Regions from separate parts of the Homo sapiens genome. Here region 2 is linked to region 1. Evidence: fine-mapped expression QTL. A gene starts in region 1. The other region holds a variant in brackets. All regions are shown on one strand. Distances are from middle to middle.

The links. PIP is the estimated chance that this variant, and not a neighbour inherited with it, causes the effect. A credible set is the group of variants that fine-mapping cannot tell apart.
Region 2: its variant is the best candidate, but not a certain one, in a credible set for the expression of PSMC3IP in thyroid (GTEx, PIP 0.57).

What each region holds. Positions count from the first base shown.
Region 1 is chr17:42,575,789-42,581,158 of GRCh38, reverse strand. PSMC3IP (PSMC3 interacting protein) reads left to right here and starts at 3,430. Exons shown (of 8, transcript NM_016556.4): 1 at 3,430-3,506; 2 at 3,598-3,698; 3 at 3,857-3,946. The coding sequence starts at 3,473. RETREG3 (reticulophagy regulator family member 3) reads left to right here. Exons shown (of 9, transcript NM_178126.4): 9 at 1-1,644. RefSeq lists an enhancer at 3,079-3,168 and a silencer at 3,469-3,518.
Region 2 is chr17:42,541,768-42,547,137 of GRCh38, reverse strand. NAGLU (N-acetyl-alpha-glucosaminidase) reads right to left here. Exons shown (of 6, transcript NM_000263.4): 6 at 2,689-4,110. The coding sequence ends at 2,900. It also overlaps the pseudogene HSD17B1P1. Among named protein-coding and RNA genes, the nearest start is that of NAGLU, 8.2 kb to the right of the region's middle. The variant G/A (reference allele first, on the strand shown) is at 2,241.

The DNA.
Region 1 (5,370 bases):
ACTCCTGACCTCAAGTGAGCTGACTGCCTTGGCCTCCCAGAGTGCTGGGATTAGTCGTCATCTTTTGTTAAACCAGGATTTGATTTTTTTCTTTTCTTTTCTTTTCTTTTTTTTTTTTTTGAGACAGAGTCTCTCTCTGTTGCCCAGGCTGGAGTGCAGTGGCACAATCTCGGCTCACTGCAGCCTCCGCCTGCCGGGTCAAGCGATTCTCCTACCTCAGCCTCCTCAGTAGCTGAGATTACAGGCATGCACCACCATGCCCGGCTAATTTTTTTGTGTTTTTAGTAGAGATGGGGTTTCACCGTGCTGGCCAGGCTGGTCTAGAACTCCTGACTGCAAATGATCAGCCCGCCTCAGCCACCCAAAGTGTTGGGATTACAGGTGTGAGCCACTGTGCCCAGCGTGATTTTTTTTTTTTTTTAAAGCAAACTTGTCCTTTGGTTTTGCAGAACAGGCCTGCTCCCTCTCATCTAGCCCATCATTTCTTGGGGCCTGAACCCCAGTGGTCCAAAGTATTGCTTGTGAAATTTAAAAAATGTGAATATGATGTGGGGATGGGCCTCTTCTACATTACCTTGGCCCAGGGGGATCAGCTGGCTGGGAGGATTAGTGAGCACCTCTGTATTTTGAGGTCTGAGTCTTCTGGAGCTGTGTAGTTAATCTTCGGTTTCTGATAACCCCTGGGTCCATCTGGCCATCAGCCTCAGCAGTGAGCAAAGCAATACCATACTCATTTCTATGTTCCTGTTCCTTCCTCTGCTCCTCCTTTGGAGAAGCAATAATTCATGGGGGATGATACAGTAGCACTTTACAAATGGCTCCATGTCATTCATCCCAGGGGCCATAATCTCTTGCACCACCTATTCTTACTTCCTGTTCAGCTCCTTTACAGCTTTTATTTTCAACTGCTTCCCAACTTGGTGGGGCCTCCTTTAAGGATGAGCCAATAGTAAGAATGTGGCTGTAATCAGCAGAGACCCCTCTGAGGGGTATCTGTTCTGCAGCCCCTAGTGAAATCATGTGATGTGAGACAGAAACCTAAACATGGTACTTGATTCTAAACCTGTGCCAGTCTATAGCCTCTGCCTCCCCAAGCAGAGCTCAAGCCAAACGCTTCTGTCCTCTTTCCTTCTGCATTAACCCTTTGCTGATCCTCAGGGGCCACTCCCCCAACACCCCTGTACTTGGGTGAGGGATGTTGGACAGAGCCTGTTTTCATGTACTGCAGGTGGGGGTGTGCTGACATGTTTGCTCTTGGTTGATGGAGAAGGTACAGAGGCCAGGGAGTGAAAATGGTTGACAGAAGAGGGAAGAGTTAGGTGTCTCATAGTCACTCATAGTGGGGTGGTCAGGGGTAATGGCATCTCCCCACTTTAGGCTTCTCAAACAGACTTTTGACACCTCTCAAGTTCAGAGCTCTGATGTGGAAAGACAGGAGGTGTGGGGAAGGAGGGGGATTTCGTGTGTTTGCATGAGTGTGCGCTTCAGGCCTTGGGAGTTGGCAAGAGGGAGGGAAGGAAGGAGAGCAAAATCTTCGGAAGGTGTTTCTTGTACCTGAGGGATCCTGCCCTGAATCTCCATAGTCTCCACTGTGAACTGAGGAGGGGAGGGGTGTGCTGGGGAATAAATCTTGTATGAGAACAATCTTTAAGAGACTGATGCTGAATGGTGTCCTACCCTTGATAGGTCTTCTCTTGTAAATCTGAGTTCTGATTAATTTGAAGTGATAGCCTTAAAAGAGGAAGCCCAGGTATGAGGGACCCACCAGCCCACCCCTATTTTTACTTCGTGATGGCCAGAACATCACCATAGTATGAGGCTACTTTCCTTCTTGTGAGAGCCCCACCATCAGTATAACTGGCACTCTTGGCTAGTATTTAGCCTGTATTTCCTTCATTTCTAATTTCTTTTTTTTTCCTGAGACGGAGTCTTGGTCTGTCGCCCAGGCTGGAGTGCAGTGGTGCGATCTCTCACTGCAAGCTCCGCCTCCCGGGTTCACGCCATTCTCCTGCCTCAGCCTCCTGAGTAGCTTGGACTACAGGCGCCCACCAGCACGCCTGGCTAATTTTTTGTATTTTTAGTAGAGATGGGGTTTCACAGTGTTAGCCAGGATGGTCTCGATCTCCTGACCTCGTGATCCGCCCGCCCTGGCCTCCCAAAGTGCTGGGATTGCAGGCGTGAGCCACCGCGCTCGGCCCTTTCATTTCTAATTCTTAATATTGTCTCCTAAACGTGCAGAGACAAGCACACGTTTTAAAGGCTAAGGAGGTTGTAGGTAGCAGAAGGCTTTAAAAAGTAGCACCTTACTCCTTCACTGGATGGTCTGAGCTGCAGGGACAGCTGCTCTTTGGCCTTCAGCTCACCTCAGAAACTAGAAATATTTATTTCAGGCTCTGTCCCATTGGCCACTGTGGTCAGGGGTGGAAAGCACCTGCCAGGTGTTGCCCTGAGATTGTCTGGGCTAACAAACTTTTCCACAAGCTTTGTGGTTGAACAGTAGCCCCCTCCTAACCCTATCGTTCCTTGGCGTCCAAACTACAGTAGGTGTCGAGTGCCCCCTGGGTGCGAAGCTCGGTATTAGGCAAATAAGGGTGGTTGCTCTCCAAGGCGCTTAGCTGTCCCCCCTTCCCACTTTTTTTTTTTTTGTTCGAGACTGCGTCTCGCTCTGTCGCCAGGATGGGGTGCAGTGGCGCGCTCATAGTGGCTCACTGCAGCCTCGATGTCCGGGGCTCTGGTGACCCTCCCACCTCAGCCTCCAGAGTAGCTGGGACCACAGAAGCGCGCCACCACTCTTAATTTTTTGTACTTTATTTGCAGAGATGGGGTTTCATATTGCCCAGACTGGTTTCGAATTCCTGGGCTCAAACGATCCGCCCGCCTCAGCCTCCCAAAGTGATAGAATTGCAGGGGTGACATGCCACTGCGCCCGACCAAGGCGCTTAGCTTTCTATTAAGTTTTCACAACCACTTTCCTACCACTATCTACTGTTCCTATTTTACAAATGACAAAACTAACCGACAAAAGAGCACTGGACCGTGGGACCAGAGCACGTCCCTGTGGGGTAACCTTGAGCTGGTCGCTTGCCCAGGGCGGCAGCGGATGTCTGAAGCGTCTTCCAATCCCAACATTAGACTTAATTCAAGGTCACCAGTGCTCAGCTGCGGCTGGAACTGGGTCTCGAAACTTGAAGGCCTTCTCTGCTACAGCCTTCGTTCCCGGGAGCAGAAAGAGGAAGTTTCTTAGCCGTGGGCACGCCGGCGCCTTCGCAGAGGCCCATGGCTTGAGGTCCGGCCCGAATGCGCAAGTTCCGACCTGAAATGAACTATGGAGTCCGGGAGGGGTCGCTTTGCTCCTCCGGAAGGCTTCCCCTTCAGCCAATCACCGTTCGAGGCCCGCCCCCGTCGCCGGAAGGAGCCGTCGCCCCGAGCAACTACAACGTCCGGCTTTCTGAGTTGGGTGGCGGGAAAGGCGATGAGTAAAGGCCGGGCAGAAGCTGCGGCGGGAGGTAACGGCGCCGTGGGCGCGGGGAAGACCCGGGAGGGCAGTGGGTGAGGAGGTCGGTTGAGTGGCCCCCTCCCCTGCCTTTCTCTCCGTAGCCGCCGGGATCCTCCTGAGGTACCTGCAGGAGCAGAACCGGCCCTACAGCTCCCAGGATGTGTTCGGGAACCTACAGCGGGAACACGGACTGGGCAAGGCGGTGAGGACCTTCTCCCGGGATTCCCTCTCCGTCGGACTCCCTGGATTCAGGCTGGGGTCGTGCCCTTTGGAGCCTTGGGCGTTTTCCACATCACTGGCTGGATTTCCCCAGACCCAGGCTCAGACTCCTCTGATTGCTCCTTCTCTCTCCTCTGCCAGGTGGTGGTGAAGACGCTGGAGCAGCTGGCGCAACAAGGCAAGATCAAAGAGAAGATGTACGGCAAGCAGAAGATCTATTTTGCGGATCAGGTGAGGAGAACTTGCGCCGATTGTCACCCATGAGAGCCCGACAACGGGTGAATCTACTCCTGGTGTGAACTCTTTGGGGACAAGGCCCCCCATGGAAAACTCACCTGTCTTAGGCCACCATCCTTAAATCAAGGTGTGTACTCCTCTTGTTAGGATCCCAACTTCACGAGGTTTCCAGATTTACAATATGATGGATGACAGAAGATTCTGTATTGTTGCTACCAAGATCCATTTCCGCTCCAAAGCTCTTATTCCTTATCATCTACATTAGCAACACCCTCTGCCAAATGATGTTCCTCCTGCCTCCATCCGATTCTCTAAACACACATATCAAATTTATATTCTCCAGCCCAGACCTCCAGCTGGAATCTGTCAGGCATTAATATCAGAGTCAAAATTGCCACAGTAGAATGCCTCATCTTCCCCCCACCCCGGACTGGTTTCTTTCTAACATTCTCCTCCCCTAATGGAATTACTCTTCACCCAAACCAGAAATTGGGAGCAATTCTTGACTTCCTTTACTAGTCAACCATCAAGTCCAGCTGATTTTTCCGTTTTTATTTATTTTTTTAATTTTTATAGAGATGGGTCTTACTGTGCTGCCCAGGTTGGTCCCAACTCCTGGGCTCAAGTGATCCTCCTGTCTTGGCCTCCCAAAGTGCTGGGAGGACAGGCGTGAACCACAGAGCCTGGCTAATTTTTCCATTCTTGAATCCACTCTCCTTTCCATCTGCCATGGTTGCTCTAGTTCACGCCCTCTTTATTTGTTGCAGTATCCTCCTAACAGATCTTGGCTCTTCAAACATATCTTAAACTCTTAAACATTGCAGTCAGAATGATCTGTCTAAATAGATCTGGTCATGCACCTTCCCTATTTAAAACTCTTCAATGGCTCTCTAGTGCTGCAAAAAACATGTAAAAGGCACCGGAAGACGCCCCAGCCAGCCTCTGGCCTCACCAATCCTCATTATTTTTCTATCCACGAACACTAGATAATTCTGGTGTGTTTTACTGCTCTGTCCTTTGCATGTTGTCTTCCCTGTACCTGCTTCTCTTCCTGGCCAGCTCTTTCTTTCCTTGAGGATTTCACTTAGACATCACCTTTTCCAGAAATCTTCCTTGAATGCTCCGAGCTAATTGTTTCTTTTTCAGGCCCTTATCTCTTTTTGTTATTGTTGTTGTTGTTGTTGTTGAGACGGAGTCTCGCTCTGTCACCCAGGCTGGAGTGCAGTGGCACAATCTCGGCTCACTATAAGCTCCACCTCCTGGGTTCACGCCATTCCCCCGCCTCAGCCTCCCAGAGTAGCTGGGACTACAGGCACCCGCCACGAAGCCTAATTTTTTTTTTTTTTTTTTTTTGGTATTTTTAGTAGAGATGGGGTTTCATCGTGTTAGCCAGGATGGTCTTGATCTCCTGACCTCGT
Region 2 (5,370 bases), 34 kb after region 1:
CTTCCAGGAGGCTCACCCAGCACATCCACACGGCCCTCGGTCACGCGTTCCCGGGCAGCGGCCAGGGAGCTTGAGTTCCTTACATCCAGCTGCAACCTCTCCAGGGATCCCTGAGGGCATGCCAGGGCCCGGGCCGCCTCCCACAGCCGGCCCTGTGTTTTCAGGTCCCTCAACGTGGCATACACTGGAGGTTTTGGGAGAGGAGGAAGATCTGACTTCTCTTCTGGCCTCCAAGGGCTTTTCCCTTCTCTCCCTCCCTGTCCCTACCTATCTATACCTTTGAAGCTCTGGGATGGGTCCAAAGCCAGATGTATTGCCAAGTGCAGGCCAATACCTGAGGAACAGCCGGTGATGAGCACCACGGTGCAGGCCATGGTGAGACTGTGGGGAGAGGCTGGGGCTCTGGGCTGGATATCACCTGCTTCGCCCCGCCCCGCCTGCGGGCCCCCACCCCTTGTTGTGTCTCCCACGCAATCTCAAGGATAAGCCCTCCTGCGGGTCCCTGGCCCGCTCTCCCCACCCTGTTCTGAGCCAAAACAGACATGAGCCCACTGCTTGGAACAACAAACTGTCCTCGTTTCTGGTCAGAGGGAGGGGAGGCTTTACAAGCAGATGTGGGTTCCCACGTGGGCACAGAGTGGCCCCCTGGGCAGATTCCCCTGGGTATGCCTCTGTGCCACAGGAGCGATTATAGTGACCGCAGTTTGCTGCAGAGGCTGTGAAAGTAAAGGTGTTGGGAGGTGGGAGATGATTGTATATGTGTTGGTTTCGTCCAGGGTTCCTAGCTCATAACTCACATGACCATGGTTACAGTCTTTCGTTGTCATGTTGGGGCGCCTCAGGCCTCAAAAAACAGCCTTTCCTCTCTTTGACCTTCTCCTGTCCTCTTTTCAGCTGCCCAAGGCAGGATTCTAATCTGATTGTGGGTTGTAGGATCCTCATTCCAGAGTGGGTCCTTGCCCCATACCCTGGAGAAAGGAATGCTGCACAAAGGCCCAAAGAATCTGGACTGGCCTTGCTGGGCTTAGATCAGACCCTTTTTGCCCAATCACATTATCACAGTTGTCCATGCTTCAGTCATGGACAGCCAATGGAGTTCTCCATAAAAGGCCCAAAGGACAGGGTTCGGGAAGCTTCTGAGAGCTGAACGTGTGGAGGCTGACAGAAGGTGAAGAACTCATCCATGTGCCTGGAGGGTGATGTAACCCCAACTCTATGGAGATAGAAGCTCCTGCTCTGGGCCCTTCCAGACCGCCCTGTCTGTATCTCTTCATATGGCTGTTTATTTCTATCCTTTAAAATATCCTTTGAGGTTGGGCACGGTGGCTGATGCCTGTAATCCCAGCACTTTGGGAGGCCAAGGCAAGGGGATTGCTGGAGCTCAGGAGTTCAAGACCAGCCAGGGCAACAGAATGAGACCCCGTCTTTGCAAAAACTACAAAAAAATTAGCTGGGTGTGGTGGTGTATGCTTAGAGTCCCAGCCACTTGCGGGGTGGGGCGCTGAGGCGTGGGGTTTGGGGGGATGGAGGCTGTAGTGAGCCGAGATCATGCCACTGCACTCCAGCCTGGGTGACGGAGCCAGATCCTGCCACTGCAGTCATTCTGGATGACAGAGTGAGACCCTGTCTCAAAAAAGAAAGAAAAAAATTTTTTTCCTCTGTAATAAAGCAATAAACATAATAAGGGTTTCCCTGTGTTTCGTGGGTCACTGTCGCAAATGAGTTGACTCCAAAGAGGGGAAGGGGGTCATGGGAACTCCAACTTGAAGCCAGTTAGTCAGAAGTTCCAGGGATCAGGACTTGTAACCGTTGGGAAGGAGGGGGTGGTCTCATGGATCTGCACCCTAACCCTGTGGGATCTGATGCTGTCTCTGGTTGATTACATTGGAACTGAATTGGAGGACACCCAGCTGATGTCTGCTGCTTGGTGTGTGTGGGGAAAATCCTCCAAATATTTGGTCACAGAAGTCTTCTGTGTTGGTGACTGTTGCTGTGGCATGCCAGCAAAGGACAAACATGGTTTGAAAAGAGGTTTTCCTGCAACAGAAGGGCATTCTACGTTCAAAGGTCAGGGTAACATTAGTGTTAAAAAGAGAGACGTGGCCGGGCACGGTGGCTCACTCCTGTAATCCCAGCACTTTGGAAGGCCGAGGCAGGTGGATCACTTGAGTTCAGGAGTTAAAGACCAGCCTGGCCAACATGGTGAAACCTTATCTCTATGAAAAATACAAAAATTAGCC[G/A]GGCGTGATGGCACAGGCCCGTAGTCCTAACTCCCTGGTAGACTGAGGCAGGAGAATTGCTTGAACCCGGGAGGCAGAGGTTGCAGTAAACCAATATGGTGCCACTAAACTCCAACCTGGGCGACAGAGCAAGACTCCATCTTGGAAAAAAAAAAATTAGCCTGGCGTGGTGGTGCATGCCTATAGTCCCAGCTACCGGGGAGGCTGAGGCACAAGAATTGCTTGAACCCAGGAGGCGGAGGTTGCAGTGAGCCGAGACTGTGCCATTGTACTCAAGCCTGGGCAACAGACCAAGGCTCCGTCACAAACAAACAAACAAACAAAAACAGGGACGTGAGGCAAGGGATGGGAGAACAGGTCCCACCCCAGGGCCATGCTATAGCCCTGAGTCCTCCCAAGCGTGGCAGCAGTGACCTTCTCATTTTGACAGACCCAGGGGACTCATCAGTTTAAGTGGAAAGAAAACAGTACTTTAATCCCACACTTTGGGTGGTGGTGGAGGGCAGGTCATTTCCCTCCAATCCCCCCAGGTCAGACCCCACCAGCAGGCCGTGGGGCCTCCTCCCAGGCCTGGGTTATCCTGTGATGTCTGTCCAGCTCTGGGCCCTGGAATCTGCCCTGGAATTAGCGGAAAACAAGGCCCAGTGGTGGCGAATCTATCACCAAGAGCCGGCCACCCAGCGGGGGTAATATTTGAGGAAGATCTTCTTGGCCAGGTCCACAGTGTCTCCTCGCGGCTGGCTGGGGTACCTCTGCTTGCTGAGAACGAAGGCCTGCTCCAGTTGGAAGACATTTTTGTCAAACTGGTGCTGTTGGAAAGGGATGCCCTGGGCCACACTGTCAACCAGCGCCTCCAGGAAAAGCCGCCAGCGAGGGGTGTAGTAGTTGGCCACCAACCCCGCCAGCTGCTTGTTGGCATAGTCCAGGATGTTGCCTTCTGGCCCCCACAAGGTCAGCTGGTAGCGGCTGTTCTGCTCGTAGAAATCGGCCTCGGCCTCACTGACTGCCGCTGCTCGGGCCTGCTCTAGCCAGCTGCCCAGCAAGAAGCGGCTGTCACTAGCCAGCACCTCGTCCAGTGCCGGCAGCAGCTCATAGGCCAGGACGCCTCCAGCCCTCAACAGGGAGGCCAGCTCCTTGCTCAGGTAGGCGCTTCTTGCCTCCTCATAGTACAAGCTGACCAGCTCCTGCACTGCCTGCCGAGTGAGGTCCAGCAGGTCGTAGCGGAAGGCGGGGCTGGTGGCCAGGGAGGGAGCAGATGTGAGCAGCAGCCGCCAGGCCTCAAACACATCAGATCGGTTGTACCAGATGCTGGTATTCATCTGTAGGGACGGCCGCCTGACCAGCGGGCTACGATTGTGGCCCCTGCAGGCCTCCCCGGAGCAGTTGTACACACTCCGGAGCAGTAGCCTCCACGCTGCCCCTGCGTCCGGGTGGGAGACCCCATACCGCCGGGCGGCAAAGCTGGTCACCCAGGCTGCCAAATCTGGCACTGGGTCCTTTCGCCAGCCCAGCTCAGCCATGAGGGAATAGACCACTTCGTTCTGGCTGATGCCCTCGGGGGCCATGCCCGTGCCTACCATGGTGGAGTTGGGGAAGAGGCGGGCAGCTTCTGGGCCTCCGTTCACAGCCTCTAGGGCTCCAAAAAGACCATGGTTTCCCCCAAAGTTGTGCAGCATGCACCAGATGAAGGGCTGGCCCTGGAAGGAGGCAGTGCGGGTATACACAGGCTGGCTCTCAGCAAACAGGTCCAGAACCAGGAGGCGGCCACGGGGCACAGCTCCCAGCACAGCCCTGATCTGGGCGGGCCCCCAGAACTGCGGCTGGTGCTGGAAGAGCCAGCCTTGGAGCAGCCACACAGCCTCAGTATCCACTGTGGACAGGAGGTAGGGGGAACAGAGAAGAGGAGTGATGAAACAGAGGGCCCAGGGAATGTTCACCCCACTCTACAGACGACTGTCTATCCCAGGTCATGGCTTCCCATGACCCCCACCAGCGGGACGCTCTGTGGCACATACGCGTCCCTCTGAAAACTCCAGGACAGGGTTCAGCAGCTTGGGTGAACATGAGAGTTACCCAGAGGGCTCCTTAAAACATGGAGGTTTCTGAATGGGCGTGGTGGCCCACACCTATAATCCCAGTACTCTGAGGGGCTGAAGCAGGTGGATCACTTGAGCCCAGGAGTTCCAGACCAGCCTGGCCAATGTGGGGAAACCCTGTCTATACTAAAAATACAAAAATTAGCCTAGCGTAATGGCAGGTGCCTGTAATCCCGGCTACTCGGGAGGTAGAGGCACAAGAATCACTTGAACCCATGAGGCAGAAGTTGCAGTGAGCTGAGATTGTGCCACTGCACTCCAGTCTGGGCGACAGAGTAAGATTCTGTCTCAAAAACAAAATCAAGGCCAGTCGCAGTGGATCACGCCTGTAATACCAGTACTTTGGGAGGCTGAGGTGGGCAGTTCACCTGAGGTCAGGAGTTTGAGACCAGTCTGGCCACCATGGTGAAACCTGTTTCTACTAAAAATACAAAAATTGGCCAGGCAAGGTGGCTCACACCTGTAATCCCAGCACTTTGGGAGGCTGAAGTGGGCGAATCATTTGAGGTCAGGAGTTTGAAACCAGCTTGACCTACATAGCGAAACCCCGTCTCTACTAAAAATACAAAAATTAGCCGAGTGTGGTTGGGGGGCGCCTGTAATCCCAGCTACTCAGGAGGCTGAGGCAGGAGAATCGCTTGAACTCAGGAAGCAGAGGTTGCAGTGAACTGAGATCGTGCCACTGCACTCCAGCCTGGGTGACAGAGCGAGACTCTATCTCAAAACAAACAAAAATTGCCGGGCGTGGTGGCGGGTGCCTATAGTCCCAGCTACTCGGGAGGCTGAGGCAGGAGAATCGCTTGAACCTAGGAGACGAAGGTTGCAGTGAGATGAGATTGTGCCACTGTGCTCCAGCCTCAGCAACAGAGTGAAATCTGTCTCAAAAAAAAAAAAAATGTAGCTTCTCCTTCAGGTCTTGGGTAGGGCCTGAGAATTTGCCATCTCACAGCTCGGGCTGCTGCTGCTGCTGCTGCTGGTTTTGGGTCACACTTGGAGCAGTACTGCTCAAGAAAGGCTGAGCTGATCTGTTCCCT